Regions from separate parts of the Homo sapiens genome. Here regions 1, 2 and 3 are each linked to region 4. The links come from fine-mapping of genetic effects on gene expression. A gene starts in region 4. Each other region holds a variant in brackets. All regions are shown on one strand. Distances are from middle to middle.

Region 1 (8,000 bases), 60 kb before region 4:
TTTTTGTTTGTTTTTGAGACGGAGTTTCACTCTTATTGCCCAGGCTGGAGTGCAGTGGCGCGATCTCAGCTCATCACAACCTCCGCCTCCCAGGTTCAAGCGATTCTTCTGCCTCAGCCTCCCAAGTAGCTGGGATTACAGGCATGTGCCACCACGCCCGGCTAATTGTGTATTTTTAGTAGAGACAGGGTTTCTCCACGTTGGTCAGGCTGGTCTCAAACTCCCAACCTCAGGTGATCCACCCACCTCGGCCTCCCAAAGTGCTGGGATTATAGGCGTGAGCCACCATGCGCGGCCGAAACTTATTCTTTTTTTTTTAAGGACATCTGAAGACCATTGAATATTAAACTCATTCTTAAGATAAAATATGTTCTTTAACATATATATAGTACTTTGTTATATATGGTATAATGGTACCCTATGTATGTTATATATGGTATAATTTTAATTATAGCTCTGTGCCTATATGAAAAATACATATAATCAAAGTAAATGGTGGGTGCATGCCTGTAATCCCAGCTACTCGGGAGGTTGAGGCAGGAAAGTAGCCTGAACCCAGGAGGCAGAAGTTGCAGATATTTGTATATAACACAGCTAAACACTATAAGGCAGGCAAATAATCGGCACAAATAATGAAGTGATGTCTGGTTTTAGAAATTACAATGATCTGGCCGGACACGGTGGCTCACGCCTGTAATCACAGCACTTTGGGAGGCCAAGGCAGGTGGATCATGAGGTCAGGAGTTCAAGACCAGCCTGCCCAAGATGGCAAAACCCGTCTCTACTAAAAATACAAAAAATCAGCCAGGTGTGGTGGTGGGTGCCTGTAATCCCAGCTACTTGGGAGACTGAGGCAGGAGAATCACTTGAACCCGCGAGGCAGGGTTTCACCATGTTGGCCAGGCTAGTCTCGAACTCCTGACCTCAGGTTATCCCCCTGCCTCAGCCTCCCAAAGTGCTGGGATTACAGGCATGAGCCACCGCATCCGGCCGGATTATTGTAATTTCTAAAACGAGACATTACTTCATTATTTGTGCTGATTATTTGCCTGCTTTGTAGTGTTTAGCTGTGTTATGTACAAATATCTGCAACCTCCGCCTCCTGGGTTCAAACGATTCTCCTGCCTCAACCTCCCGAGTAGCTGGGATTACAGGCATGCGCCCACCATTTACTTTGATTATATGTATTTTTCATATAGGCACAGAGCTGTGGATAATAAAAATCAATGTCCAAATCAGTAAAAAAAATTCTTTCAATAAAAGCACTGTGTCATAGTTTAATTAGCAGAATTTTTTCTTCCTTAATAGTCCATAAAATAACAGTATCTTAATATAGTTGGCATCTTAGATCCAATGAAATATTGTAATGACCAATTGTAATATTGTAATGGGCTGGGGGCCGTGGCTCACGCCTGTAATCCCTGCACTTTGGGAGGCTGAGGTGGACGGATTGCCTGAGGTCAGGAGTTCGAGACTAGCCTGGCCAACATGGTAAAACCCCGTCTCTACTAAGAATACAAAAATTAGCCAGGCGTGGTGGCGGGCGCTTGTAATCCCGGCTACTTGGGAACCTGAGGCAGGAGAATTGGTTGAACCCAGGAGGTGGAGGTTGCAGTGAGCCAAGATCGTGCCACTGCCCTCCAGCCTGGGCGACAGAGCGAGACTCCATCTCAAAAAAAAAAAAAAAAAAAGTCTGCAATGAAGAGCTAGTTTCCTTATGAAGAGATTATGTTTTATGCTTCTTTGAATCTGGATCTAGCACACTGCTATGTCTTTAGTTAATAAATACTTACTGGTCTGAGTTATTTCCATGGGCAGATAGCCCAACCCAGAATTTCAGTAGTAGAGTTCCTGGAAAACAACGTCTTCATATAGTTGGCCAGCTGGGCTATATTACCTTCCATATTCTTCTTCATAAAATCTCATAATCATCACCTTCTCTCTTCTTCATTCCCTCTCCTACGATAATCGGTCATTACAATATTTCACTGACTCTAAGATGCCAACTATATTAAGATACTGTTACTTTATGGACTATTAAGGAAGAAAAAATTCTGCTAATTAAACTATGACACAGTGCTTTTATTGAAAAAATTGTGTTTTACTGATTTAGACATTGATTTTTATTATCCACAGCTGTGTGCCTGTATGAAAAATACATATAATCAAATTACCGTAGGTACTTATAAAAGTTCACATTCAAAGCCTGACTCTTCTGAGTCACTTTTTGACTGAGTCGTCCATGTCTTTGTTTTTCCCTATGTCATCACTAACATTCTCATTAGCCATAAGGCATTTCCAGAGTGTTCCACTATTTTCCCCAGGATTTAATCGAAATCTCTGTTATCAGTTCTGTTTTGAAGGTGGTGGTTTCTTGATGATACCAGAAGGTGTCAACAGAAGGTTGTACATCTCTCAGTAACAAAAATGTAGTGCGGCCTCATCTACTTTGGGCATCTTCTTTCTTAGGTCACGTAAAGCACTTGGTTGTACTTGCGAGAAACTATGGAATTGGGGGCCTGTGTCCTCAGAGACAAATAGTGCCTGGGTTTTTTTTGTTTTGCTTTGTTTTGTTTTTTTGGAGATAAGATCTTATTCTGTCGCCCAGGCTGGGTGCAGTGGTTGAACACAGCTCACTGCAGCCTAGACCTCCTGGGCTCAAGTGATCCTCCTACCCCAGCTTCCTGAGTAGCTGGAACTACAGGCATGTACCACCATGCTTGGCTAGCTTTTTTATTTTTTTGCAGAGACAGGGCCTCACTGTTACCCAGACTGGTCTCATACTCTTAGGCTGAAGCAATCCGCCCTGTCTCAGCCTCCCAAAGTATTGGGATTACAGGCATGAGCTACCACGCTCAGCCAGATAGTGCTTTTCTTAATACCAAATGTATTCCCTGCTACTCTGTTTCAGAACTTTTCTGCATTCACAATCACTTTTTTAATGCTAATCACAGTATAGTCTTTTTGAAGACATGTCATGGCAGTTAGACTCAATACATGAGGTACAAACAGTGCAGTGACTTTGTTGACATGCTGACAGTACTAATAGCTATGACTAAGTTCTCACAAGCATGAGCAGTAACAACCGCAAGGCAGCTGCCATTTAGCCATCAGCAGTTCTAAGACATATCTTGACCTCAGGAATGCTAAATTGTGAAAAGGTGTGTGTCTTAGAATTGATGAAATTTGGTATTTTATGATATGTTATTTCTAGGCGATTAGTGTAGTTTCTTAACTGTCCTCCTTACCTCCAGCTGTGAATGTGATGTACATTTTAATCTTTCAAAACCTAGTAAAACTACAACAGCTTCCCAGATAAAGTATACATTTTATCAAGGGTCTACATTTCTTCCTGCCTCTCCTACTTTATCTTTCATTAAACCCCCTTCATAAACCTTCTGTTCTGTCCACAGTCTCTTGCTTTTCCTCTAAACATGGGAATGATGTGAAAATCACAGATGGGAAAGGATTTGAAATCCACTCTTTGCTCAGCTCAAATACATAGGAATGGTTACTCCCTCACTACCCAGAGCCAGTGCATCAGTCAGTCCTACAGAGCCAGCCTCCAAAACTCACCCAAGCTTGCTTCACTGTGTCTCCACTACTGCATTCCAGTTCACTCCATCCTCACTCGCTCCTGCAATGGCTTCCACCAGGCTCCCGGATTCTACTCTTTCCTTTACAGTCAAGTTCTTAAACAGCAGCCAGGGTGGCCTTTAAATGACAGGCTTGTCTAGCTGCAAGACTGATATGCGACCTCTATGCAGAGGACTCAGCTGGCTGCTTGTTGCCTCAACCCACATGGGGAAAGAGTGGAGGAAGAAAAGTTTGTGCTGGAGGAAGTAACAATTTGGTTATGCC[G/A]TCTAGGGTGGGGTGTACAAGTCTGGAGTGCAGAGAAGAGGCTGGAGCTGGAAATAGAAATGCAGCGTTCTCAGTAAAGAGAGGGCACACCAGTCTCAGCTAGATGAGTACTGGCCATGGGAACAGTGGGCAAGAGCAGATCTGCTCCACTCCACGCACATGGCACAGGTCCCACCCTCAGCTTCCTCCTGCCCTGGCTCTTGCCCTTGCTCTGCCCTGGCCTATGCCGCTGGAATTGGATGGTGGGTTCCTGCCCTCTGTGCCTGTCTGCTGCCTCTGAGGTGCTAACTTTGCCTTTTACAAAATTGGCCTGTGTTCCCAGTACCCTGCAGTTAGTTGGCACTTAGCAGACGTGTGCTGAATGCGTGAATGAGCCTGAATTCAGTGGGTTTTCTATGGGTGATAATTTAAATTCCTAATTTTATGCCTTTGCACAGAATCTTTATCTTCTGATCCTGAGGTTTTGCTTCAAATTGATGGTGTTACTGAAGACAAACTGGAAAAATATGGTGCGGAAGTGATTTCAGTATTACAGAAATACTCTGAATGGACATCGCCAGGTTAGTACACAGCCATGTGTGTTCTCTAAAAGCCTGTTTAATGTGAAGCGACGCGTCTCACTGAATTAGAAGGATGCAGTTGTGTGAATGCTTCCTACACCTCGTCACACTGACATCCAAGTCAGCCCCCAGTGGTGTGCCAGTCACCTCTGAGAGGACACTAGTGCTTATGCCCCCTGTGAGTGCCAGTTCTGAACTTACTCATAGGATCCAAAAGGGGACCTTTGGGCCCAGGGGTTGCTGGTTCCCGTAATGCAAGTGCTCAAGGGATCAGAGCCCTGGGTACCAGTTCCAGATCTGCCACCACGTCATGCTGTGTGGTCTCTAGCAGGCCACCAATAGCCTCTTTGTGAATCAGGTTCCTCCACCAAGGAAGGAACATGTTATCTGACAAACATGTCTAAAGATAAAATTTAAGACTAGTGTTTAAATGTTTTGGAGAAATGAGCATGCAGCTAGAATGTTATTATTGTTAGTCATTGATAGAACCTGCCTGAGTGCATCATTATCAGACGTTCCCGGAGTCACGTTAGGCCTGTCCTGTGGCACTTCTAATCATGAGCTTCATCATCATTACAGCTTTAGAAATCATTGACCTGGGGGAAATGAGAACAACAAAGCATTTTGTTGTAGGAAATATTGAGAGCACAGAAGTCTTCTGCCCTCTGATAACATCACCACGTAATAGGACACAACAGACAGGCCCGGTTCAGTGTTCTTCCTGCTTCCAGACAGGCAGTGTGGGGGTCTTCCCAAGGATGATGGAAATGATGAGCAGGATGAGATAGTTCAAGTTCTCTCTTTACCTAGTCGCTTTTTTTTTTTTTGACAGAGTCTCACTCCAGGCTGGAGTTCAGTGGCACAATCTTGGCTCACTATGCCTCCCAGATTCAAGCAATTATCCCACCTCAGCCTCCCCAGTAGCTGAGACTACAGGCATGCACCACCACACCTGACTTATTTTTGTATTTTTTTGGTAGAGTTGGGGTTTCACTATGTTGGCCAGGCTGGTCTTGAACTTACGACCTCAAGTGATCCACCTGCCTCAGCCTCCTGAAGTGCTGGGGTTACAGGCATGAGCCACCACACCTGGTCAGGTTCTCCTAAATTCTTCTATATGGTAATTAGTCCATTAAAAGCCTTGTTCCGAATACATTTTGACAGTGAGCCAGGGTTGGAGCAGCCATGGTGGAGTCCTGTGCCCTCCATGCTGCTCCTGTAGGGTGGCCTGTAGGACAAGGCAGACCAGCCAGGAAATGGAGACTGGGTCCCCGTGTGAGCTATCTATAGGGAGGTTTCATGCTTTTTGGGTGCCTTGGGATGCAAATACTTATGGAAATTACCATCTTCTTTGCAAATGTGTGCTTTCATGCGGTCTCACCTCCCGCATAATATGTGACATGTTCAGCCATATTGTGCAAAGACAAGTTTTTTTGTCTGTAAAGAGTAAAATAGGATCTAGAATTTTCTTATGTTCATTTACTAAGAAACTATTGTTCAAAGATGAGATACAGGACCGTTTGTTTCCCTTATATTGAGCTGATTTTTTCAGCACATTTAAAATAAGTAAAATTGCCTGCCATCTTTATAGCAGTTGATACTTTTTGAATTGCCTACCAGAACTAACTGCCCAATCAACAACAGGAACACAGGCCATATGCGACAGTATGAGCTAAACCTCATGTCTCTAGTTAACTTCAAGACTATCACAAATTTTTTTAATGAATTCTGATTCTCTTTTGTTAAAAATGAATTGCCATTGAACACTTTGGGGCTTTGTGCAGTAAAAAAAGGTTTGGTTCTTGCTGAATTGTTGAATCCATATGGCAGGGAAGCAGCTAGGTATCTGCTAAAATGGGCCCCTGCAGCGTGTCTCTTCATATACACTAAAAACACGTGGACCAGTGCGACATCACCTGTAAACATCTGCATTTTCCATTTGTAGCTGAAGACAGTTCCCCAGGGATAAGCCTGTCCAGCAGCAGAGGCCCCGGAAGAAGTGCCGCTGAGGAGCTCGACGAGGAAATACCCGTATCTTCCCACTACTTTGCAAGTAAAACCAGAAATGAAAGGAAGAGGAAAAAGATGCCAGCCTCCCAAAGGTCTAAGAGGAGAAAAACTGCTTCCAGTGGTTCCAAGGCAAAGGGGTATGTTTTGTGACATCTTTTTCAATATAGGGAACAAGGGAAGAAAGGACAAAAGTGCAACAGCTCTGCCTTGCTTTGAAGGATTTATTAAAATAAGCCATTATTAAATATTGCTAATGGAATGACAGTTGTTAATGGAGTGACAATTAAGGTTTGATCCAAAACAAAAATATTTGCTTCAAGAAACAACAAAAAATATTTGCTTCAGATGTTTAAAACATCTACTGACTAATAGTTATGACTAAAGTTTTCTTTCTTTTTTTAATTTGAGGACAAAGTCTGACTCTGTTGCCCAGGCTAGAGTGCAGTGGCACAATCTCGGCTCACTGCAACCTCTGCCTCCTGTACTCAAGTGATCCTCCCACCTCAGCCTCCTGAGTAGCTGGGACTCCAGGTGTATACCATCACTCCTGGCTAATTTTTGTATTTTTTGTACAGATGGAGTTTCCCCATGTTGCCCAGGCTGGTCTCAAACTCCTGAGCTCAAGTGATCAGCCCACTTTGGTCTCCCCAAAGTGCTGGATTACAGACGTGAGCCACCGCACTCAGCCTGACTAATGTTTCTTGTTTGCAAAGATGTCTTCCATGTTGATCTTCCCTTAGATATTTGTTTGCCTGTTTGGGATGATTGTTCTTCTTAAGAGACTTTTCCACCTACAATACTATAAATCATACACTAGCTGAATAAATAACAAAGGGTTTTGTGTCCTCGTGGCTTTTACTATTCTGTCAGTACTTGCTCCGCTGCTTTTATTGCTGCAGAATCCCATGGATCTCCACCTTGAAGCACGTGCACACTCCCTGCCTTTCATTAACACCTGGGAGAATCGACCTCCCAGCCTTTGCAGGGGTAGCAAGAAGAAGCCACAACAGAGAAACCAAAAGTTCAGTCAAGCCAGGCCTCTTTAGGGGTTGCGTAAATGGCTTCTGTCTTCCCCTTCCCATGTTTTCCTGGGCCGCTCGTCTGGGACATGTCTGTTCTGGGCGCTTTCTGCACACCAGGGGAACAACAAAGACAGCATGGTCTGATATGTGTGATGATCTTGGCAGTTTCCTTCTTTCTTCATAATTGCATTGTTTCTGACAGCCGCTTTTTGATTTTCTGCCAGGGCACCCTCTGCCTTCTGGCTAGTAGGTTAGGCCTGGCAGGAGGGAGACCATTCCATCAGTCTTGAGAACTTGACCCCAAAGTAACTGTATATTGTAACAGAGTTGCTTGCAGAAAAAAGAAACCAAAAAAAAGTCCACAGTCAACTTTTGCAAGCTGTTGTGTTTTCTTTTGCAGTTTTTCTACCTCTTGTCCTTCTGAGTAATAAAAAACAAGAACTGAGTGGGGAAAGAGAAAGGAAGGCAGACATTACCAAATTGTCATTTTCTTGTTAAGTCCATAAACAAAATCTTGTATGTGCTAATCCTCCTGCCAGAGTACCGA
Region 2 (8,211 bases), 38 kb before region 4:
AGCTCTCTGTAAAATGGACCAATCAGCAGGATGCGGGTGGGGCCAGATAAAAGAATAAAAGCGGGCTGCCGAAGCCAGCCGTGGTTGCCTTACACACTATGCAAGCTTTGCTGTTTGCAGTAAAACTGGCTGCTGCTTGCTCTTTGGGTCCACACTGACTTTATGAGCTGTAGCACTCACCATGAAGGTTTGTAGCTTTACTCTTGAAGCCAGTGAGATTAAAAACCCACCGGGAGGAACAAACAACTCCAGTACGCGCCGCCTTAGGAGCTGTAACACTCACGGCGAAGGTCTGCAGCTTCACTCCTGAGCCAGCCGCACCACGAACCTATCAGAAGGAAGAAACTCCGAACACATCCGAACGTCAGGAACAAACTCCGGCCACGCCGCCTTTAAGAACTGTAGAACTCGCTACAGCACTCACCGTGAAGGTCTGCGATTTCATTCTTGAAGTCAGTGAGACCAAGAACCCACCAAGTCCGGACACAATGGGACCTGTATGCAGTCTATGGGGCAGTTCAGACCAAAGGGCTGGGCGTGGCACCACAGCTGCCCCGAGCCCTTGGCCTCTCTGAGCTTTTCTCTCTCACCTGAGAAATGGGATTTCAAGGAAAATGAGTAGCGGTAACTTACCCACCTTACTCCACGGTTACTGTGAAGCGCCCAGAAGAGAAGCCATGGATGTGGGCGACGCATTCGAGGTTAGCTTCAGAAGCAGCGGGCGCTGGGTAGCCACATTGACACCCGGTACTAGCGCTTCCTCCTGGGGGTTCCTGGGTCCAAGGGGGTTGTGGCAGTCCTTGCCACAGAGATGCAGAGTCTGCAATGTCCAAATGTGCTTCGTGTGCAGTGGGAGCCTGGCAAGCTGTAACCCTTGTCGTGATTCACGCGTCCCAGGGACACTTGGGGGCCGCTGTGGGCAACCCCCCACACCCCGCTTTTGGTCAGGGCTGTGCCAGCAGAAGGCTGGGGCTGGACAATAGAGGGGATGTTGGGGCCGGGTGGGAGGCGGGAAAGGAGAAGGAGGGAAGTTTAGCAAGGAAAGAGCAGAAACGTCCCAGAGAAATTAAATTTCAGTTTTGTGGTGAACAGCTGGATCCTTTTTCCCATATCCTCACCAAAAAATTCCAATACTATCTTTGTCACCTTGTGTCATGGATCTATTTTGAGCTCTCTCGCGGTTCCTGAGCTCCTGTGTTTAGAGTGCACCAGGCTCTGCCTTCCGGGTTCAAGTCATTTTTTTTTTTGAGATGGAGTCTCGCTCTGTCGTCCCAGGCTGGAGTGCAGTGGCATGATATCGGCTCACTGCAACCTCCGCCTCCCGGGTTCAAGTGATTCTCCTGCCTCAGCCTCTCAAGTAGCTGGGATTACAGGTGCACGCCACCACGCCTGGCTGATTTTTGTATTTTTAGTAGAGGTGGGGGTTTCACTGTGTTGTCCAGGCTGGTCTCAAACTCCTGGCCTCAAATGATCCACCCAGCTAGGCCTCCTAAAGTGCTGGGATTACAGGTGTGAGCCACCGCGCCCGGCCTTGCGATTTTTGTATCTCAGCTCAGCTCTTCACACGAATTCATCCTCACAACCGCAGGGGATTCGGAGGGGTCCAGTAATTTTTCCCTTTTCACAGCCAAAGCAGCTGAATCACCAAGGCCATGAAACGAATGAGGATCTGCCTGATGTTCACCAGGCTGGCCCCTCCAGATCACTGCAAAGTGGGGCAAGATGAGAACAGCGCCAGGGGTTGATGACACCCAGGGCGCCCCAGCAGGACATCCTGGCCCAACTGCCCTCCAGGGTCCCGGTCAGAGGGCCAAGCTTTGCTGCTAGTCATGGCCCAAGTAGCCTGTAGCTTCTTCCCCGGATGGATGTGGGATCCTCCCAGAAAGGCCTGACCCGACCTAATCCCAGTCTCCCCACCTTTTCTGATACTGCTTCCTTACCTGGACCTCTCCACCCGCTGCCCGGCCCACACTCACCACTGGGCTCAGCTCTGCTGGGACACTGCTGCCTGGACCGTGCGTGGATGGGGGCGGGGCGGGGACGAGGGGAGGTGGAGAGGTCACTGCTCCTGGGAGGGCTGGGAGTGGCAGTGAGCCGTTGGTCTGGCCATTCTCCCTCCGTGAGGTTCAAGATCAAAAGTTCCCATGGGAAGGCCACAACCATTTCTTCTGTGAGGCCCGGAAATGATAATGGGTTCCTCATACTAAAAGACTTTCCTGGCCAGGTGCGGCGGCTCGCGCCTATAATCCCAGCACTTGGGGAGGCCGAGGCCGGCGGATCACTAGAGATCAGGAGTTAGAGACCAGCCTGGCCAACATGGTGAAACCTTATCTCTACTAAAAATACAAAATTAGCCGAGCGTGGTGGTACATGCCTGTAGTCCCAGCTACTCGAGAGGCTGAGGCACGCGAATTGCTTGAACCCAGGAAGTGGAGGTTGCAGCAAACCGAGATCATGCCACTGCACTCCAGCCTGGGGGACAGAGTGAACTCTGTCTCAAAAAAAAATATTAAAATTTAGCCTGGTGCAGTGGCTTATGCCTATAATCTCAGCACTTTGGGAGGCCGAGGTGGGCAGATCACGAGGTCAGGGGATCGAGAACATTCTTGCTAACATGGTGAAACCCTTTCTCTACTAAAAATAGAAAAAATTAGCAGGGTGTTGTGGCACATGCCTGTAGTCCCAGCTACTTGGGAAACTGAGGCAGGAGAATCACTTGAACCCAGAAGGTGGAGGTTGCAGTGAGCTGAGATTGCGCCACTGCACTCCAGCCTGGGCGACAGAGCAAGACTCCGTCTTAAAAAAAAAAAAATTAAAATTAAATTTTTAAGACCTTCCTGCTCCCTGAAGTGGGCCACCCTGATCCCAGCCCCCAGGTCTGGAGTCACCATTTCCAGTTCTTCAAACCTGCCTGTTGCCGACATGCTGGGTGACCTTGGGCAAGTCACTTCGCCTCTCTGTGCCTCGAGGCCTCACCAATAGAATGACCCTCACTGGAAGCTGATAATCAAGTCCGCCCACCCACTTGGACATTCCAGGACTGTTCAATTTCAGTGCCATATAGACTTACATAAGCAGGGCTGCATTTCTTTAATTTGAGTAAAATGCAAATGCTCCTGGTGGATGAGTCTGCACTTCTCAACCCCAAGCCTGCTCAGGTGCATCACTTGGGCGGGAGGGAGAGGTCCCACCCAGACCCACGGACCTCTGCTCTTGGGGTGGACAGGCCCTGGAGATTGGCATTTTGCAGAGCCTCCTGAGGAGGGGAGTTCAGACTTTAGAAGGCAGAATGAGGGGCGAACTCCCCAACCCCAATACCTGACCACATGCACAACAATGACAAATTTTTGGGAAAAGAGTGAGCCAACAGGCCAAGGTGGGTGGATCACCTGAGGTCAGGAATCCAAGACCATCCTGGCAAACATGGTGAAACCCCATCTCTACTAAAAATACAAAAATGAGCTGGCTGTGATGGTACGCTTGTGGTCCCAGCTACTCAGGAGGCTGAGGCAGGAGAATTGCTTGCACCCAGGAGGCGGAGGTTGCAGTGAGCCGAGATCTTGCCACTGCACTCCAGTCTGGGTGACAGAGTGAGAAGGGACCTCCAAGGCTATCGTGTTCAGCTGCTGGGGTGAGGAGTAGGGCAGAAGGCTGGGCACAGGATGTTTAGGGGATGACAGGACAGAGAAGACCTGTGGCCCCCAGCAGGGTGGCCTCAGCCGGGGGGACTTTCCCACCCACCTCTGCGCACTCAGGCTACCCAACTGAAAACAATGCAGCCTCAAAACTGCCCTTCTTCGGGGAAGACAGGAAGGTTCCCGTAGCAGAACAAGTAAAACGTCAGGAGTTAGCTAACCGAGCAAGATGAAAAAAACTTGCAACGCCTCCCTACACGCAAGTGCCAGGAAAGGGAAGGAAATCACAC[A/G]GGGGCACAGCTGAAAGCCAGCAGAGCCAAGGACCTGAGTGGCTTTCTTGGAACTGATAGCTTCGCGCTAGACAAAAGTGAATGAGAATATGAACCAGGTATAAAAAGCACGAGCCGGGTGCAGTGGTGCGCGCCTGTCAGGCCCACCTGCTAGGGGGGCCAAGTGGGAGGATCACTTGAGCCCAGGGGTTTGAGACCAGCCTGGGCAACCTTGTGAAGCCCCATTTCTTAAAAAAAAAAAAAAAAGTTGAATGAAAAGAGCACAAAGAAGAGATGACAGGCCAGGCACGGTGGCTCACGCCTGTAATCCCAACACTTTGGGAGGCCAAGGCGGACAGATCACCTGAGGCCAGGAGTTTGAGACCATCCTGGCCAACATGGTGAAACCCTGTTTCTACTAAAAATACAAAAATTAGGCGGGTGTGGTGGCGGGCGCCTGTAATCCCAGCTACTCAGGAGGCTGAGGCAGGAGAATGGTGTGAACCCAGGAGGCAGAGGTTGCAGTGAGCCAAGATTGCACCACTGCACTCCAGCCTTGGTGACAGAGCGAGACTCTGTCTCAAAGAAAAGAAAAAAAGGAGAGATGACAAAAAAAATATATATATCAGGAAATGCAAAGAAACTGCAGAGGGGAGGAAACGCATTAACCAAAACAGGACCATGACACATCTAAAAACAGAGTTACAACATAGTACATGCATCTGAAAAGCAAGGGAATAGTGTGGGAGAGAAACTTGAAATAATTGCAGTGAATTTAGAGAAAAAGACAAATTAAAACAATTAGAGAGAAAATGACCATTATGGGTCCCAGACCTTCCAACATCAGGGTGACTGCACTCCCTGAAGTAGATTATCCAACAACTGAAACAAAAAGCTATTTAGAGAAAGTCTTCCTGAAACGAAGAACCAACTCTACAGACTGCGAGGGCATGACTACTCCAGGGAAGCAAATTCACAATGACCAACATAGGAACATACTGGCTGAGTTAGTGAACTTTTTTTTTTTTTTTTTTCAAGACAGAGTTTCGCTCTTGTTGCCAGGCTGGAGTGCAATGGCAAGATCTCAGCTCACCACCACCTCTGCCTCCCCGATTCAAGCGATTCTCCTGCCTCAGCCTCCCGAGTAGCTGGGATTACAAGCATGTGCCACCATGCCCAGCTATTTTTGTATTTTTAGCAGAGACAGGGTTTCTCCATGTTGGTCAGGCAGGTTTCGAACTCCCGACCTCAGGTGATCAGCCCGCCTCGGCCTCCCAAAGTGCTAGGATTACAGGCATGTGCCACTGCGCCCGGCCAAGTTACTGAACTTTAAGGATAAAGAAAAAACTCTTCAGGCACCTGGACAAAATGTCATTAAAGAATGGAATGGAAGGCCGGGTGTGGTGGCTTAAGCCTGTAATCCCAGCACTTTGGGAGGTTGAGGCGGGCAGATCACCTGAGGTCAGGAGTTCAAGACCAGCCTGACCAACATGGAGAAACCCCCTCTCTACTAAAAATGCAAAATTAGCCGGGCGTGGTGGCGCATGCCTGTAATCCTAGCTACTGAGGAGGCTGAGGCAGGAGAATCGCTTGAACCCCAGAGGCAGGGGTTGCCGTGAGCGGAGATCGCGCCATTGCACTCCAGCCTGGGCAAGAAGAGCAAAACTCCATCTCAAAAATAAATAAATACATTAAAAATAAAAATACAAAAATTATCCAGGCGTGGTGGTGCATGCCTGTAATTCCAGCTACTTGGGAGGCTGAGGCAGGAGAATCACTTGAACCCGGGAGGCAGAGGTTGCAGTGAACCAAGATCACACCACTGCACTCCAGGCTGGGCAACAAGAGCAAAACTCTGCTTCAAAAAAAAAAAAAAAAAAAAAGAATGGAATGGAATCTATTTCAATTTCATTATAAGGCTAAATGCTGATAGCCAGGCATGGTGGCTCATGCCTGTAATCCCAACATTTTGAGAGGCCAGGATGGGTGGATCACTTGAGCTCAGGAGTTTGAGACCAGCCTGGACAACATGGCGAAACTCTGTGTACAAAAATACAAAAATTAGCCAGGCATGATGGCCAGTGCCTGTAATCCCAGCTACTGGGGTGGTTGAGTAGGGAGAATCACTTGAATCCGGGAGGCAGAGGTTAGAGTAAGCTGAGATCACACCATTGCACTCCAGCCTGAGCGACAGAGCAAGACCCCATCTCAAAAAAAAAAAAAAAAAAAAGGCGGCCAGACATGGTGGCTCACGCCTATAATTCCAGCACTTTGGGAGGCTGAGGTGGGTGGATTACTGGAGGTCAGGAGTTCAAGACCAGCCTGGCCAACATGGTGAAACCCCATCTCTACTAAAAATACAAAATTAGCTGGGCGTGGTGGCGTGCGCCTGTAATCTCAGCTACTCAGGAGGCTGAAGCAAGAGAATCACTTGAACCCGGGAGGCAGAAGTTGCAGGCAGAAAGAGTGAAACTCCTTCTCAAAAAAGAAAAAAAAAAAGACTAAATACTGGGAGAATTATGGTTTTAAAGTAAAAGTGTTACAAACCTTGACAAAATCTGAGCGTGGTGGCTCACACCTGTAATCCCAGCACTTTGGGAGGCCAAGGCAGGTGGATCACCTGAGGTCAGGAGTTTGAGACCAGACTGAACCTGGGAGGCAGAGGTTGCAGTGAGCTGAGATCACGCCACTGCACTCCAGCCTGGGTGACAGAGCTAGACTCTGTCTCAAAAATAAATAAATAAAATAAAATAAAAATAAAAATAAATAAACCTTGACAAAGTAAAAATATCAGCATCAAAATCAGAGCTGGGGTGGGCAAGAGGAAGAGGGAGGATGTTTGAGGGGAGTGGTCGCCTTTTTTATCGCAAGAAATGACTGATCTTGCTCAAAGTGAAACATCTGAGTTTTTACCCCAAGACTCCAATGTCTTAATTAATTTCATAATCTTTTTTCTTAACCATGAGGAATTCATTATGAAGTAATAGCTCTTGTGGAAAGTAAATATTTATCTAAGATTCAGCAAGTTTTCTGGGTTTTTTTGCCTTTTTTTTTTTTTTTTTTCAGATACAGGGTCTCACTCTGTTGCCCAGATTGGAGTGCAGTGGCACAATCATGGCTCACTGCAGCTCTGAACTTCTGGGCTTAAGTGATCCTTCCGCCTCAGCCTCCTGAGTAGCTAGGATTACAGGCGGCACATGTTCCCACACCCAGCTAGTTTGTCTGTTTGTTTGTTTGTTTGTTTGTTTGTTTCGAGATGGAGTCTGGCTCTGTCACCCAGGCTGGAGTCCAGTGGCACAATCTCGGCTCACCGCAACCTCCGCCTCCCGGGTTCAAGCGATTCTTCTGCTTCAGCCTCCTGAGTAGCTGGGACTACAGGTGCGCACCACCATGCCCAGCTAATTTTTTGTATTTTTAGTGGAGACGGGGTTTCACCATATTGGCCAGGCTGGTCTCGAACTCCCGACCTCGTGATCTGCCTGGCTCGGCCTCCCAAAGTGCCGGGATTACAGGTGTGAACCACCACACGCAGCTGACACCCAGCTAGTTTTTAAAAATTTTTTTGTAGAGACAGGGGTCTCACTATGTTGCCCAGGCTGGTCTCAAGCTCCTGGGATCCTCTCACCTTGTTCTCCCAAAGTGCTGGGATTACAGGTGTGAACCATAGCACCTGATCTGCCTTTTTTTTTTTTTCTGTTAAACTCAAGTAAAATAGAATATATTTAGTTTAAAATAGAACTGGTACGGTGCAATCTAATCTAAAATTGTTTGGACTTACCTTTCTCTGAACTGCAGGGGCAGAAGGAGGGTGATCCCTTTTCTCCCCATGTAAAGGGTCATGACCGGCACCTCTATTACAAAAATCAAGTTAACAAGAGAAAAAAGAACAGGCTTATTACATGCACATGAGACATGCAAAATATGAACTCAAAGAGGGGCCAGAAGGTTGAGGAGAGGAAAAATGGAGAAATGAATAGGCTCAGTGCTCAGACAGTGGTTAGCAAATGACTGGGAGCTGAGTGGGACAAGTTATGGGAAGGTGAGGGCGGAACTGCAAAGGAACAAAAGTTGGATTTGTTTGTTTGTTTGTTCGTTCTGAGACAGAGTTTCACTCTTGTTGCCCAGGCTGGAGTGCAATGGTGCGATCTCGGCTCACTGCAACCTCCGCCTCCCAGGTTCAAGCAATTCTCTTGCCTCAGCCTCCCGAGTAGCTGGAACTACAGGCACGTGCCACCATTCTCGGCTAATTTTTTGTATTTTCAGTAGAGATGGGGTTTCACCATGTTGGCCAGGCTTGTCTCAAACAC
Region 3 (8,000 bases), 73 kb before region 4:
TTTTTTGAGACGGAGTCTCGCTCTTGTTGCCTAGGCTGAAGTGCAAAGGCTGGAATGCAATGGCACGATCTCGGCCCACTGCAACCTCTGCCTCCCAGATGCAAGCAGTTCTCCTGCCTCAGCCTCCTGAGTAGCTGGGATTACAGGCTCCCACCACCACACCCAGCTAATTTTTGTATTTTTAGTAGAGACAGGGTTTCACCATGTTGGCCAGGCTGGTCTTGAACTCCTGACCTCCAGTGATCTGTCCGCCTCAGCCTCCCAAAGTTCTGGGATTACAGGCGTGAGCCACTATGCCCAGCCGAGACCACTTTTAAATTAACTCTGGCAGAAGTACAGTGCATAGGAAATGGCACTTACCAAGCACTGTGCCCAACACTGCATATATCACCTCATTACCTTATTTGTTCAAAACAACTAACTTGTGATGTAGAGGTACTCCCATAAAAAGTGAGCTTCGGAAAGGTTTTGTAACTTTTCCCCAGGATCACTGATATGGCAGGAGCAATAAGAGTCGTTGTAGTAGTAGTATAACAATGGTAATTATTATAGATAAGTGTTTATTTAGCCCTTCCTATGTGCCATTCTAAATGCCTTACATGTATCATCAACTAATTTCATCTTCACAATAACCCTCAGAGATAAAACCTTTGCTTTCCTCATTTTACAGAGGAGGAAAATGAAATGCAGAACTAGTAAATGGTAGAGCCCTGACAGAACCCAAGTTCGTCTGATTCCAAAGTCCATGTTCCTTGCACTATACCAAAGTGATTCTCAGTGAAGAAAATTAAATATTTACACTTGGTTTGCCCATTTGTGTTTTTTTTAAAATCTATATTAAAGCTAGGCCCAAACATGGCCAGGCATGGTGGCTCACACCTGTAATCCCAGCACTTTGGGAGGCCGAGGCCAAAAAAAAAAAAAATTTAGGCCCAAACAATTTAATAGATATTTAAGTCCTGATAGCAGCAACTATTTGGGGGAAAAATACTCATAAACTGGAAGAAAAAAATAATATTTTTTAAAAATTATTTTCTTTTTTTTTTTTTTGAGACGGAGTTGCGCTTTTGTCACCCAGGCTGGAGTGTGATGGCACGATCTCAGCTCACTACAACCTCCACCTCCTGGGTTCAAGCGATTCTCAGCCTCAGCCTCCCGACTAGCAGGGATTACAGGCTCGCACCACCACACCCAGCTAATTTTTGTATTCTTAGCAGAGACAGGGTTTTGCCATGTTGGCCAGGCTGGTCTCAAGCTCCCGACCTCAGGTGATCCGCCCACCTTGGCCTCCCAAAGTGCTAGGATTACAGGCGTGAGCCACCGTACCTGGTGTTAAAATTCTTAAGTAACAACAGTTGCTTACTGATGGAAAGTATGCCACTGCTGTTCTCACACATTGGAATCAAATCCGACACTGCCACCCTCATTTCCTGTTTCACATTGATTTTCTTGAGATACTTCTTTTTATCATAGCAACTGCGAAAAACCCAGCTTTGCAAAGATGAGATATTGCTAATAGGAATGTAGCACAATCTAATGTTAATACCATTAACTACCTCAAGCTAATAATTTGGGTGATGTTCAACAGATGTTAGGCATTGCTGTGTTTCCCTTCATGTAAAATATTCTGTCTCTGTGAGTTCACCACAGCACCCCCGGGCTTGTTGGCACACAATTTTGGAACCACTGGTGTAACTACTTTGACCTCAGATACTCAGAGAAGTGCATGGCCACTGCCGTAATCTCAGGCTCTGCTTCCTCAGGATGTTCAGTTCGGTGGATGCTCGACTGATAAATACAGCAAATATAAGTCAAACCATCATCATTGGGGATAATGAAGATTTGAAAAAAAAAAACCTAACATTTATTCCTATAGTACTAAAATCTTGAGGATGAACATTAATACTCAGTTAATTATAATATAGAATGCCATGTTGACAATGCTGTTAACAGTAATTTTCTTATTTAATATTTAAAGTTATATGAATCTATTCTAAATATTTCTATGATATGCTCTATTTTTCCCCTATAAGTATGTCTTACTATAGTCTTCATCTCTTTTAGTGGAAAAAGATGGAAACCATCATACAAGAGAAACTCACTTCAATAATTTGTATAGCATGGTACATTACTGTGAAAATATAACGGAATGCAGGAGAATACAGCTTTTGGCCTACTTTGGTGAAAATGGATTTAATCCTGATTTTTGTAAGAAACACCCAGATGTTTCTTGTGATAATTGCTGTAAAACAAAGGTAAAAAAAGAAGTTTTAAAATTCTTTATAATTAAATTTTTTTTCTCTTACTTTAAAAATGTAGATACAAATTAGATTGCAAAAGGTGGTCTCCGACAGATTAACAGGGGAAAGACAGCTTCCTTCCAGTAGTAATTTGGAATGGAAACATTTAAAAAGTAATTTCATGCGGTATCTTTTCTTTATAATTAGAACCCTGTTAAAAAATATAATGGACATCAGCATATCCAGAATATTGAGTTTATATATGTGCACTGATGATTACAGAATATTTTAGAAATATTAATATGCAAACATCCAAAAAGATCCAACATGGGCAGGTAGAATATTTTAAATTTAATATATTAATGTTATTAATATAATACATTATATTAAAAATTTAATTGATTAAATTAAATATATTAAAATTGACGTATTAATATTTAATATTTTAAATATTTAATTAATATACTAAAAATCTCATTCTCAAAAGAGTAATAACTAGTGTACCGTATGTTTGAATTCAAATCAATTACATTACTCTTTTTTTTTAACTATAAAGAATAACAGTAACTGCTTGTGGATAAATTCACTATTATCTGTCCTAAAATACCCTTGGAAGGTTGTTAAATTCAGTCATTAGGTACTTATTTTACCTATCTTGGTAATTCTACATTTTAATGTCTACTGTAACCTACTGCTTACTGAGCATTTTCACGTTTGGTGTATTATTTACCTATCTGGGAGTATTAGACTTATATGTGCAAGATGCTGGAGAGCCACAAGTGACCATGGTATGGACCAATTCATAGACTGGAGTGGAGACCGACATACATGTGTTCATAGAAGTTTAACACTCTGGCTTGGCGCAGTGGCTCATGCCTGTAATCCCAGCACTTTGGGAGGCCGAGGCAGGAGGATCACCTGAGGTCAAGAGTTCAAGACCAGCTTGACCAACATGGTGAAACCTTGTCTCTACTAAAAAAATACAAAATTGGTCGGCTGTGGTGGCCCATGCCTGTAATCCCAGCTACTTGGGAAGCTGAGGCAGGAGAATCGCTTGAACCTGGTAGGTGGAGGCTGCAGTGAGCCAAGATCATGCCATTGCACTCCAGCCTGGGCAACAAGAGCGAAACTCCATCAAAAAAAAAAAAGTTTAGTACTCTCAGTAAGTATAGTTAAAAAATACAGAGCACAGGGCAGAACAGAGGGTAGTCTCTCTCAGTGTGGAACTGGCAAATTCATGCCATCTCCTCCCACCCCACCCCATCCCTTAAACATTGCTATCAGTTCCCTCATTCAACAGATATTTGTTGGGCTGTGTAACAGGCACTGTTGTAGGAATTTGGGATACATCACTAAACAAAATGAAAATCCCTGCCCTTGTGGAGCTTACACTCTAGCAGAGGGAGGCCAGTTACAAACAATATACACAATAAATATACATGAAAGGATAAGAGCTGTGGTGAATGGCACAGCAGAGTAAAAAGACAGGAGGAATGGGTAGAGTGCAGGATGCAGTATTAGACGGGGTGGTCCTTGGAAGTCTAACTGAGAAGATGGGAGCTGAGGAAAATCTTGAAGAAGGGAGTTAGCTGGCAGCTCCCTGGATGTGAGCTTTCCTGCAAGAAGCTTTGGCTAGAGCAAAGGCCCTAAGGTGGGGGTGTGCCTGGTGTGTTCGAGAGATGGCAAGGGAGCCCATGTGGCTGAGCAGGATTAAGAGCCAGTGAGGGGAAGAGGTGATGGAGAGCCAGAGCAGTCAGTTGAGGGCTAGAGTCCCAGAGTAACTGGAGGCCTGAGTAACTGGAAGGATGGAGTTATCCTTGGCTAAGATGCAGAAGGCTGGTTGGCAGAGAAGATCAGGAGTTTGGTTTGGGTTACCTAAATTGGGAATCTAATATTGAATTACATATTAAGATTCAAAAATTCTGAAAACAGACTGGTGGCACATGGGTGATATTTAAAGCATGGCCATCAGCTGACAGTCGGGATAAGAGAAGGGACGGAAGAGAAAGGAGAAAGTATGAAATAGTTGTCTAGGACAGGGGTCAGTAAACTTGCTTTTAAAGGGCCACAGCATAAATATTGTACACTTCGCAGCCATAGTCTCTGTCACAACGACTCACAGCTTTGCCATTGTAGTCTAAATGCAGACATAAATAATAAATACACCAATTTTCTAGTCATCTTCCATGGCTGTGTTCCAATAAAACTTTATGCACAAAAACAGGCATCCAGCTCCTGGGCCATAGTTTGCTGACTTCTGTTGTGAGAGAATGGAGGAATGATAGGCTAGGGAAGTATAAAGATAATGATTGCCTACAGCATTAACAGTCCATTCGAGCTTTGTGGCCA[C/T]GTAGTGACAGTGAAAATGCCAAGTTCAGCCACATAGGTACAGGGACCTATGGAGATGGAGAATTGGATCCATTATGTTTTGCCAGGTAATATGTTGAAGTGATCTAAGGGCAAGAGAGCTGAGGGTCTATGAGAGGTAGTGATTATAATGATCGACTGGAATTTCAGCTGAGTTAGGAGGACATCTGAGGTTGAGGATCAGCAGATGGGCATTCCCAGGGGATTGTTGGAGTCAGAATACCACATGGTATGAGTTGGAAAGATAGGATGTGGTGGTCTGAGAATGGAGGAGTTGCCATTATTAGTAAGCTTAAGGTAGGAAGTGTGAGCGGCTGATGTATGTGGAGGACAGGATCATTGGAGCAGAGGAGATCAAGAACCAAAAGACCAAAGTAAGAGGATCAGCTCTGTATACCTAATCACCAAGAATTAAGGTAGATGGCCAGGTGCAGTGGCTCACACCTGTAATCCCAGCACTTTGGGAGGCTGAGGCCGGCGGATCACCTGAGGTCAGGAGTTAAAGACTAGCCTGGCCAACGTGGTGAAACCCCATCTCTACTAAAAATACAGACAAATTAGTCGGGCATGGTGGCAGGTGCCTGTAACCCCAGCTACTCAGGAGGCTGAGGCAGGAGAATCGCTTGAACCTGGGAGGTGGAGGTTGCAGGGAGCCAAGATTGCGCCATCGCACTCCAGCCTGGGCGACGAGCGAAACTCCATCTCAAAAAAAAAAAAAAAAAAAAAAAAAAAAAAATTAAGATAGGAATGGAGTGACAGGGCACTTTTTCTTGATGACTCTAGATAGGGCCTCAGAATCACTTGCAGTTGTTAGTGTAAGACCAGAAACCTGTTCATCTCCAGGTTATTGGTGTGTGCAAATGACAAGGATTAGAAGGTAGGGAGGGCTGCATACACAGAAGCACCAAGCATGATGCAGCTTTTTACACCTGTGAGTGGTCAGTATTGATGGTAGAGAGAACTAGGGGAGAGAAAGGCAAAAAGTCATCTAGTAACGGGGACTCTAAAAAGTGGGCAAAGTTTGGGGATAGCTGAAGGAAATGAGAAAGGAAACTAGCAGGAGATGATGAAAAGAGCGTTGACTATGGCACCAAAGACCCCAGAGGGGTTAGAATCCGTGGATTTACGTGGCACCCCACAGGTTCCCACCCAGTATGTAACAGAGCACTATTCTAGGAGGCATGGAGGATTTAAATTGTGTGTTTGTGTGTGTGTCTGTGTGTTATATATGTGTTTCTACCCACAGAGTGCTATCAGGTAGTTGAAAGACAAGACGTATCTCTGTGAAACAGTAACAACATCGAGTGGTAGTTGTTCTAGAACTTAGATAAGAATGAACATTTGAAATTTCCGTAGGTTTTGGTCTCGGTATTGGTCTGGAAATGGGTTATGATGAATCTACTATAGTTAATATTAAACCCTAGTAATCTAGGCATTGTTACCTTAATTATAGCAGAAAGTATTCTCTTTTTATTCATAGGATTATAAAACAAGAGATGTGACTGACGATGTGAAAAGTATTGTAAGATTTGTTCAAGAACATAGTTCATCACAAGGAATGAGAAATATAAAACATGTAGGTCCTTCTGGAAGATTTACTATGAATATGCTGGTCGACATTTTCTTGGGTAAGTCATCTGTTTTGAATGTTTGAGTTACTTCAATTGAAATTGAACATCTAAAGAATTTATTACAAGTACATAGAAAAACTTTTTGTCTATTTTCTTATAAAACTTGAGTTTCTGAATAAAACTTTTAAGTAACAAAAGAAAGTCAATTATTATACTGTTTTATATAATGTATATGTCACTAAGTTGAGATGGTTTCACATACAAAGAAGAAAATAATAAAGCTTATGCGAGTTCATCTGAGTGGGTGGAATGTAACTATTAAAATGTCAGTAAGGAAATAAAATGAGGATTAGACCCATAACAGCATAGAGAATAGGAGAGAGACTATTATCAGATTAGTGCCTTAAAAATCTCTCAGGGGCTGAGCACAGTGGCTCACACCTGTAATCCCAGCACTTTGGGAGGCCGAGGCGGGCGGATCACCTGAGATCAGGAGTTTGAGATCAGCCTGGCCAACATGGTGAAACCCTGTCTCTACTAAAAATACAAAAAATTAGCCAGGCATGGTGGCATGCACCTGTAATCCCAGCTACTCGGGAGGCTGAGGCAGGAGAATCGCTAGAACCCGGGAAGTGAAGACTGCAGTGAGCTGAGATCGCACCATTGCACTCCAGCCTGGGCAACAAGAGTGAAACTGTGTCTCAAAAATAATAAATAAACAAACACACACAAAAATTAGCCAGGTGTGGTGGTGGGCACCTGTAATCCCAGCTACTCGGGAGGCTGAGGCAGGAGAATCGCTTGAACCTGGGAGGTGGAGGTTGCAGTGAGCCGAGGTCACGCCACTGCACTCCAGCCTGGCAACAGAGTGAGACTCCATCTCAAAAAAAGAAAGAAATGGACAGTAAAGAGGAAGACCAAATAAATAGAATATTTGACCCTGGGTGATAGAAATAATTGAAAATAGTAGTTTGGGAGAGAGGGGAGAGAAGACTCCTTAGTATCGTCTTAAAGAGTTTTTAAAATAAATACTTAAATAATAATTGAATAATGGAAAAGAAATAAAAATGAGAAAGAGCTGTCAATTTTAAATGATTGACAAAGTAAATTTAGTGGAGAGGTTGGAAAATAAAGTCAAGAAAATTTAGGAACTGATCAAAATGATATATGGAAAATAGAGAAAGCATAGAAAGGATTAATCCTCAGTAGATGTAAAATCTGACAAAAATTTTGGAAATAGAAAATAAAGGGAATTATCAAACCAATGATCTAGGAAAACTTCCTAGAGTGGAAGAGATAAAAGTTTTGGATTAAAATGCTCACTGAATGCCAAATAAGATGCCTGTAAAAAAAAAAAAAAAAAAAAAAAAATTAAGACATATGGCCACGAGATTTGAGAATACTAAGAGTTAAAGACATGTCAAAGAGGAAAAACTTTTCCTCAACCCTCTTAGGTTCAGTGATGGGGCCTGCAAATTAAACCAACAAAAAACAGATTAGCAAGGGAAAAGACAGATTTAGTCATGTGTGGATAGGAGTTCACAGAAAAATGTGGTTCAAAGGGGCAGTTAGAATGTGGGGCTTATATACCATCTTAATAGAGGAAGGGGAGAAGGAGGGGGGCACTTATGGAAAAACAAATGACTGTTAGGAAAGACAGATGGACTGTTAGGAGACCAGATGGGAGATACAAAGTTTTTATGACAATGTCTGTTTAAGTGTGGTGTGAAGTCTTATCTCTGTTTAAAAGGGTCAGCCTTCCCTGGTTTTTCCCAGGGAGGCAATTTATGACAACTGAGTTCTTTTGGGAGGCCCTGCTTTT
Region 4 (8,211 bases):
ATTCAGGGGCTGGGCGCTTATAGAGTCACTCAAGGCGGTGACTCACACCTGTAATCCCAGCACTCTGGGAGGCCGAGGCAGGTGGTTCACTTGAAGTCAGGAGTTTGAGACCAGCCTGGCCAACGTAGCAAATGAAAACCCGTCTCTACTAAAAATACAAAAAATTAGCTGGGCGTGGTAGCACATGCCTCTAATCCCAGCTACTCGGGGAGGCTGAGGCAGAGGCTGCAGTGAGCTGAGACCGCACCACTGCACTCCAGCCTGGGTGACAAGAGTGACACTGTCTCAAAAAAAAAAAAAGTCACTGGACTCCCCCAAGCCAGTCCCCTACATTTCACATCAGGAGGGTCACCTATGGTGCCTCCTGCGTCGGGCTGTGGTGGGTTCCCACACGAACCCCCATATCTCTACTCCCCATGGTAGTCAGAGGAGCCTTTAAAAAGGGTAAATTTGCCGGGCACGGTGGCTCACGCCTGTAATCCCAGCACCTCTGGAGGGGGAGGCAGGAGGATTGCTTGAGGCCAGTCTGGGCAACAGAGTGAGAGCCCATCTTTTAAATTAAATTTAAAAATATAAAAATAAAATGGCTGGGCGCGGTGGCTCACGCCTGTAATCCCAGCACTTTGGGAGGCTGAGGCAGGTGGACTGACTGAGGTCAGGAGTTCGAGACCAGTCTGGCCAACATGGTGAAACCCTGTCTCTACTAAAAATACAAAAAAATTAGCCGGGTGTGGTGGTGTGTGCCTGTAATCCCAGCTACTCGGGAGGCTGAGGCAGGGGAATTGCTTGAGCCAGGGAGGTGGAGGTTGCAGTGAGCCGAGATTGCGCCACTGCACTCCAGCCTGGACGACAGAGCAAGACTCCATCTCTAAATAAATAAATAAATAATTTTTATTAAAGGGTAAATCAGTCAAATTTCCAAAAGAATTTTGAGAATCCAGAGCCCATTGCTCTGATAATTAAATTCAACATCTGGACCCAGCTTGGCAAGTGCTCTGTGATCCAGCCCGTTACCTACCTCTCATCTCATCTCTCGGCCATGCTCCAAGAAGTGTCTGCTCCCCAAGTGCATAAGCTCATGCCCCCAGGCCCATGTCCTTGCCTCTCCCTCTGCCTGGGACACTCTTCCTCCAGATCTTTACACTTTTGCCTCTTTTTTCAGCCTCAGCTCAAACATCACCTCCTCCCAGAGGTCTTCCCTGACCACCCCAGGGATAGCAGCCCTCCCGCTTCCCCAGGCACTCCCACATTACCTTCTTTATCATTTTCTTCCAGAGCTCTTAGGATGATCTGAACTTCTCTCATAAACTGGCTTATTCACCTGTGAACTGCCTGCTTCCCTCGCTATAACTGAAGCACTGGAAGAGGTCCTGCACCCAGCAGGCACTCAATGAGTATCTGAGGAATGAGTGAATGAAATGCCCAGTGCACAATCAACCTCCACAAAAGCAGTTTTTCTTTTCACATATAACTCATCGCTATCACAGCCCCTCTCCTTGCTCACCCGCCTCGCTGAGGGGCTCCTGAGAACCTCCGTAGAGGTCTCCATCAGCCAAAAAGCATCTGCACCGTCAGAGAGGGCCCCTCACTGCCGCTCGCAGTGCTCCCTGCTGCCACGTGCAGCCCCTTGAGCATGAGCCTGTTGACACAGGTTGGCACACGGTGTCTGGCTTCTGTAAATGCTCTCTGCTCCCAGGTGTGCCGTGCCCCATTGAAGGACAGCACTCACACTCCTCCAGGTATTAACTGACTTTTTCCCCAGCAATGTTTGTTTTAGGGATTAAAGTTTGTGGAGGAGCCTATAATTTCCAGACTCATCTGTTCCTTTCCTGGCAGCCAGCACATTTGTCATTCTATTTTTCCCAAGTCCCTGATAATACCGTTCCAGACATGTTGATTTGATGGCATCAGTCAACGGAAAGACTCTCTGGGGCCTGCCGTAGGCCAGAGGACAGGCTCTCCGGGCCACACTCAGGGGCGACTGAGCCAACTCTTCACGCCATTCCTTTCCTTCCCTGCCTAGGACGACCTTACAGCCCATGATCGCTTTTCTTCTTCTTCTTCTGTTTGTTTTTTCTTCCTGTTTTCTTTTTAAGTACTACAGTGACCCCTTATTTATTCAGCAAAGAAATGGACTACTCCACAGTAGTGAATTTTCAAAATAATGCCCTTCAAGCACTAAAACTTTAAACAACACATCTTCAAAACAGCTTTGCTGAGGTATAACTGACACACTATAAACGGCATGGATTTAAAGTGTACAACTTGATATGTTTTGATATATGGACACACCCATGAAACCATCACCACAATCAAGATAATGAACATGTCCATCATTCCCAAAAGTTTCCTCCCGCCCCTCCCTGCCCCCTTCCCCAAGCAAGCACTGATCTGTTTTCCAAATACGTCTTTAATGCTACAAGGGCTCACACACCTCCCCACCTTAGAAAATGGAGTATGATCAACATGATTGATCCTTTCCTTGATTCAGCATTATCACCAACACGATGGAAAGTGATCTCAGATGTCATGAGGATGCATGATTGTTTGCCCTGATCACTAAACGGCCCATTGTTGTGCTGGCATACTGGGCAGTTTCAAGTTTGGGAGTTTTCTCCCTCACTGCTAGCTGTCTCAGAGCTTAGTTCCCAGCAGACAACTCTTGCTGCCTCGAACCCTGGCACACTAACCACCATCCTGTGACGTTCCCACTCCTCATTCTGCGACAGTGGTTCTTTGCTGGGAGAGATTTTTGTCTCCCAAGGGACATTTGGCAATACCTGGAGATCTTTTTGGTTGTCATCATGGGAGCGGGAATGCTACTAGCAGCTAATGTTTAGTGACTAGGGATGCGACTGAACATCCTGCAATGTAGAGTGCAGTGTCCCCTACAGAGAATTATCCGACCCAAGATGTTGATAATGCCAAGGTTGAGAAACCCTGTTCAGGATGACAAACTGATTGAAAACTCAACAAGGGGACCGGGCGTGGTGGCTCACGCCTAATAATCCCAGCACTTAGGGAGGCCGAGGTGGGTGTATCACTTAAGGTCAGGAGTGCGAGACCAGCCTGGCCAACATGGCAAAACCCCATCTCTACTAAAAATACAAAAAAAAAAAAAAAAAATACGAGTGGCGTAAGCCTGTAATCCCAGCTACTTGGGAGGCTGAAGCATGAGAATCGCCTGAACCCAGAAGGCAGAGGTTGCAGTGAGCTGTGATCAGGCCATTGCATTCCAGCCTGGGCAACAGAGCGAGACTCTTGTCTAGAAAAAAAAAAAACAAACCCATAAAACAAACAAACAAAAAAAACTATGAGGATTGAGTGATTCACATTTCTGAATCGAGAGAGAGAAGGATGGGCAGCAGGCTTGTTGAAGCTGGAAGGCCAGGGAGGTCGCAGACTGAGGAAGACCCTGGTGTGTCCCAGGTACCTCCATGCAACCCTACTAGAGAGGTGGTCTCTGGCTTCCTATGGACAAGCTCTAAGGGACCCAGCTATGGGGCACCAGAGCCCAGCGTTCAGCAGCTGCTCAATGAATGTCTGCCAGGCGAGACTGCACCCAAAGCATTTATTAGGTACATAATTGTGGCAGCACTGGCTGGCCATGGAAGGCAAGGCAGAACACAAGGAGCTGGAGCTGGCGGAAGGAAGTCATTAAGTCAGCCAGTGGCTGGGATGCAGCAAAGCCAGGCAGAAGGTAAGTGCAGACCCACCCCAATAAATGAGGAAAATGAGAAGGGCTGGCTGGCCATGTTAGGATCCAGTTCCAGTGCGACCAGATATGTCACCACCACATCACTTTTAGCTCCTCCCCCCACCCACAGACACCCTGTTTGCCTGTCATATAAAGAAGGTTTTCCCAAAGTGGTTTAGCCAGAACTGGAAGGGCCCCGCCCTGTGAAGGGATAGGAGCCTGACTGTTGCAGCTGCAGTGAGTGGCGGGGAAGCAGCAGCGGCCAGGATGAATCCCAGGTGCTCTGGAGCTGGATGGTGAAGTATGGACATGCTTTATTCGATTTTGCATTGACTTAAAGGTTTAATTATTTTAGGAGTTCTTGTAGACATTCCTGAAAAATGCAGGTAGGCAAAAAGAAGAAAACAAAGATCGCAAATGTGACCCTTTCATTCGGAGAGAACACCAATGGAATTTTGTTGTGCACCCTTCTATGCACGTCTGAATGTTGTGTAGACATTCTGCTTACAACTAGGTGTGGGTGCTGCTGCCGAAGGCTTTATTTGCTGTGCCTGAGGTGGACCAGAGATTTCAGAGAAGACTCCCAGAGCACCCCAAGGAGACAACAGGAGTGCTTGGAGTCAGGATGACTGGGTGGATTTAGGACTATGTGATTCTCAGGAGCCTCTCTGGATTAGCCCCAAATCAAGGATAAAGAGAGGCCTAGCTGGACTCTTCCTCCCAGAGCCCTGCTGGGAAAATGGAGCCCCTTTACAGCCCCCACTTACCCATCAGGCCCTGCTCCTCTCACTCATCTCCAGACTTCTGTCACATGCCCAAGTCCTGCTAACTGCTGTGTAAAACTGGTAAGGTGGGATCCAGAGGACCTTGGGCCCCTAGGGCCCCAGGTCAGGAGACCTGGGCTCCAGGGCCAGTTGAGAGTGATAAAGAGAACAATACCTGCCCACAGGACTTGTTGCAATGAGATAAAGGCAGAAGTCACCAGTTGTGGTCAAATGGGATTTTTTTCCAGAGAAGTCTCACAGAGAGTGGCTTTCAAATTCTTTTTAGCAGCAGAATTGTTGTAAAATACAATCTCATGTGAAACCCTAAAATGTGAGACACTCTGGGTGAAGCAGAGAGAGGTGCTCAACTGCCCAATCCTGTCCTCATTCCTCCCTCTCAGGGAGGCACCTCTGAGAACCCACTTTAAAGAATTTTGCCTTATGCAGATTGAAGAGGCAAGCTGGCTGGAAGAAACTGGGAAGCTCCACTTCCCACCGCCTCTGCCTGGGTGGCAGTCATCTGAGCCTAGGCTAGCCCCTCCCCCTCCAAAGACCCACTGCGGGCTCCCCTGGGGCCAGTCTCCAGGATGGGTGGGGCACCTGAAGCAGCAAGTATTGCTATTTTTCTGGGCTGACCTTTCTTCTAGGCCTGAGGACAAGTGGGTAGGTGGGGCCAGCCCTGTCCCTGTTTCCCCTCAATGGAGTTCTCTTGCTCACAGCCTAAGGAAGAAGCGTGAGTCACTTCCTGCCTCAGTCTGACTGCTGGAGTATTGTTCTCCCAACTGTGGCTGGCGCTACCCAGTGTGGCCCCTACAAGTCTTAGTTCCTTGGCGGAGGGGAAGTCCCCACTTTGGGACAAGGCCAACTGGACTTATCTTCCCGCTCAACTTTGAGGACCCAGCATTGTTCCTCCAGTTTCCAGTTCTTGCAGTGTTTGTAAAGGTGCCCGAATCGTACCTGATCCCATTCACTAAATATTATCTCCATTTTATAGAGGGGTAAATTGAGGAAGTCCCTGAGAAATTAACTTGTCTAAGGTGTCCCAGCAAAAAATAGTGCCCCAGGGATTTGAACCGGTTTGCTGATTGATTTTTCACCAGTTGCCTTAAGAATTATCATGATTTAACCTCTCTGGGCCTCAGTTTCCTCCTCTATAAAATGCAGACAGTGATACATCAAAGGTACTTAAAGGAAAATGTACTGTACCCACCTCATGGGGCATGTGGTGAGGATAAAACGGGTTGACACAGGAAAAGAGCTCTCAATGGTGCCTGGCTCATAGAAAACACTCAGTGGATTTTTTTTTTCCCATTACCCGGGAACCTGTGTTAAGGAGGCCACAGGCTGATCCTGTGCAGCCAGGTTATCTCACAGGGAGCGAGAAGAGATGGGCACAGGCTACTCTGCGACCTTGGAATAACCCAGCCTGGGAAGCTCCTGGCCACATTTTCCTTCTTTTCTTTCTCAGCTCAAGCAGCGTCGGCCTCAGCCAAGTAGCACAAACGTTTTCTAGGGCCCAGGGAGGGAGAGGCTCCGGCTGGTATATTGCAAGTAGCTTGGATTCAGGCTCTGCCAAACACCCCAGTCTCTTGCAGGATCTGAGGTCTGCTGGTTGTGGGACTTTGCGCAAATTATTTAAACGTTGTGCGCCTCAGTTTCCTTATCTGTAAAATGGGATTAATAATCTCAGCCTGAAAGGATTATGTGGATTAAATCATGTACATAAGAAGGAGATAATGTAAAGTGACTGGCCTGGTGCCTGGCAAGCGGTTGGTGTCTAAAAAGAAAAAAAAGCTAAAAATATTAAAAGGAGGTGGGCTACTTCTGCTCATATATCCACCTGTCTATACAAATGCAGACGAAGTCGTGACTCCTCTAACAGTAGGCCAAGAGGAGGCTGGTCCTGCCGCCGTGCAGTCCTCCCTCGACCTGGGAGTGGAGGACCCCAGGTCCGCCGTCCCTGGGCACTTAACCCGGTCAGGCTCAAATTCGTCGCCCAGGAGTGGGGAAGCGGGGGACGGAGAGGGCCAGTCCCCCAAGAGTCCGGCTGAGGCAGGGCTCGGAGTGCCTCCCCCAAGCCTTTCCCTTTGGTTCCGAGTTCGGGTCTCCGCGGCCGTCTTCCCGGGGAGCTCGCGGGGCGAAGAGCCGAGCCCGGGGGCGGGGGCACGGCAGCGGGGCCTGAGGGACGCGCCGGGCGGCCGCGAGGACTTTGGGATCGCCTGCCCCACTTCCTACCTGCCCCTACCAGGAGCCGGAGGCAGCGGGCGCCCCAGAAGGCCCCGCAGGGCCGCCGCGCGGGGCCGGACGCGCTGGGGCCCACGGCGCTGGGAACGCGGGCCCGCAGTCGGGCCCGGGCGGCATGGGCGGCCGAGGGGCGCCCGAGCCGCCGCGGCGGTCGCCTGGAAAAGTTTCCCCGCCAGGGCTCCCCAGGGTAAGTAGCGAGGGCGCGGGGCCCGGGGCCCGGGGAAGGCAAGCGCGTCTGGGAGCCGGGCCCGAGGGGAGCCGGCCGGGCCGGGCCGTGGAGCTCTGCCCCAGGAGCGGGCTCCGCGGCCCGGGTGCTCGGGCCGGGGAGGGTCGGGGCACTGGCGCCGGTGCAGCCCTGACCCGGGTCCCCCGGGGCCCGGCTGCCCGCCGGCTTTCCGGAACTGGCCCCGGGGCCGGCCCCGAGGGTGGAGCTGCCGGGAGCAGACAGGGCGCTCCGCAGCCCACCTGAGCGCGCCGGGCCCGTCTCGGCCCCCCGGCCGTGGCTGGTACTTTTCCGCGTGGGGCCAGGGCGAGCCCTCTGACCTCAGGAAGCGCCTGCGGGGCCCCTGCTGGGGGCGGGATGGGGAGAAAATTCCGCAGGCGCCGGGTGCTCCAGCCTCCCCGCCGCCACCGGGGCTGCCGCCGGCTCGCCCACTCCGCGGCCGAGGAGGGCCTGCGTTCCGCCCGGGGAGGGGAGGAGCGGCCGGGGGCGAGGCGGGGGCTCCTTCGCTTGGGCCTCGCCCCCGCCCGCACACCTGTGCGGCCAGGACTCGGGTGCGGGATCCGCGGGCGCCGGCGGCCGGCGCAGGTAGGTCCCTGGGCTGCCTTCTGCCGCGGCCTGGCCGAGGCCCCTGTGCCCCCGCTGTGTGGCTGGACCAAGGGGCGGCCTGCTTGCCAGACAGGTCTGACGGCAGTCACTTGTCTGGTCAGAACCCGCTTTCCCATCATCCTCTACCCCCTGGCCCCTGGGGTGCAGACCCTCATCCACCGGAGAGTGTTGGGATTCCTATTCTGACTTGGGAAGTGCGAGGAGAACCCGGGTGATATGGCCTGGTGAGGGCGGGTGCTGAGCAGGTGTGGACACAGCATAGGAGATTAGCCAAGCCTGACCTCTTCTCAAGCAGGGCAGCCCTCGTTTTACTATTTCCTATATTGGGCTTCTACGGAGCATTTGATTTTTAAAAAGGATTCTGTGGCTTTTTAAAAAGTTTGAAAGCCGCTGGTCCAGCAGTTTTTACCACCAAGGAAACTGAGGCCCAGGGAGAGGAAGTGACTTGTTAAGATCATCCAGCAAATAGTGGGCAGGGACTGGGAGCGATAAATTCACGGGAGCCTCCCAGGGCTGGTAACAGGACCCCGCGTGGTGTCTCTGCTAGAGGGAGAGACTGATTGGGTGTCCGAGTGGCCCTCCCGTGGCCTGCTCTGTGGCTGTGTCAGAGCCAGACCCCCAGTGTCTGGGAAACAGCAGTCGGTCCTGGGGTGAGGCGCAATTTGAGTGGCCCAGAG

Evidence for each region. PIP is the estimated chance that this variant, and not a neighbour inherited with it, causes the effect.
Region 1: its variant is fine-mapped to the expression of FURIN in blood mononuclear cells (TOPMed, PIP above 0.99). The same link has a PIP of 0.9 or more in monocytes and whole blood.
Region 2: its variant is fine-mapped to the expression of FURIN in whole blood (INTERVAL, PIP 0.97).
Region 3: its variant is fine-mapped to the expression of FURIN in whole blood (TOPMed, PIP 0.97).

The regions. Positions count from the first base shown.
Region 1 is chr15:90,804,839-90,812,838 of GRCh38, forward strand. BLM (BLM RecQ like helicase) reads left to right here. Exons shown (of 22, transcript NM_000057.4): 20 at 4,299-4,421; 21 at 6,367-6,568. Among named protein-coding and RNA genes, the nearest start is that of FURIN, 60 kb to the right of the region's middle. The variant G/A (reference allele first, on the strand shown) is at 3,862.
Region 2 is chr15:90,826,343-90,834,553 of GRCh38, forward strand. No RefSeq gene overlaps it. Among named protein-coding and RNA genes, the nearest start is that of FURIN, 38 kb to the right of the region's middle. RefSeq lists an enhancer at 3,748-3,837. The variant A/G (reference allele first, on the strand shown) is at 3,926.
Region 3 is chr15:90,792,103-90,800,102 of GRCh38, forward strand. BLM (BLM RecQ like helicase) reads left to right here. Exons shown (of 22, transcript NM_000057.4): 16 at 2,065-2,255; 17 at 6,088-6,235. Among named protein-coding and RNA genes, the nearest start is that of FURIN, 72 kb to the right of the region's middle. The variant C/T (reference allele first, on the strand shown) is at 4,590.
Region 4 is chr15:90,864,714-90,872,924 of GRCh38, forward strand. It overlaps FURIN (furin, paired basic amino acid cleaving enzyme), which reads left to right and starts at 3,875. Exons shown (of 16, transcript NM_002569.4): 1 at 3,875-3,998. RefSeq lists enhancers at 4,407-5,606, 4,849-4,898, 4,966-5,260, 4,999-5,108, 5,046-5,340 and 2 more and silencers at 6,617-6,826, 6,867-7,506.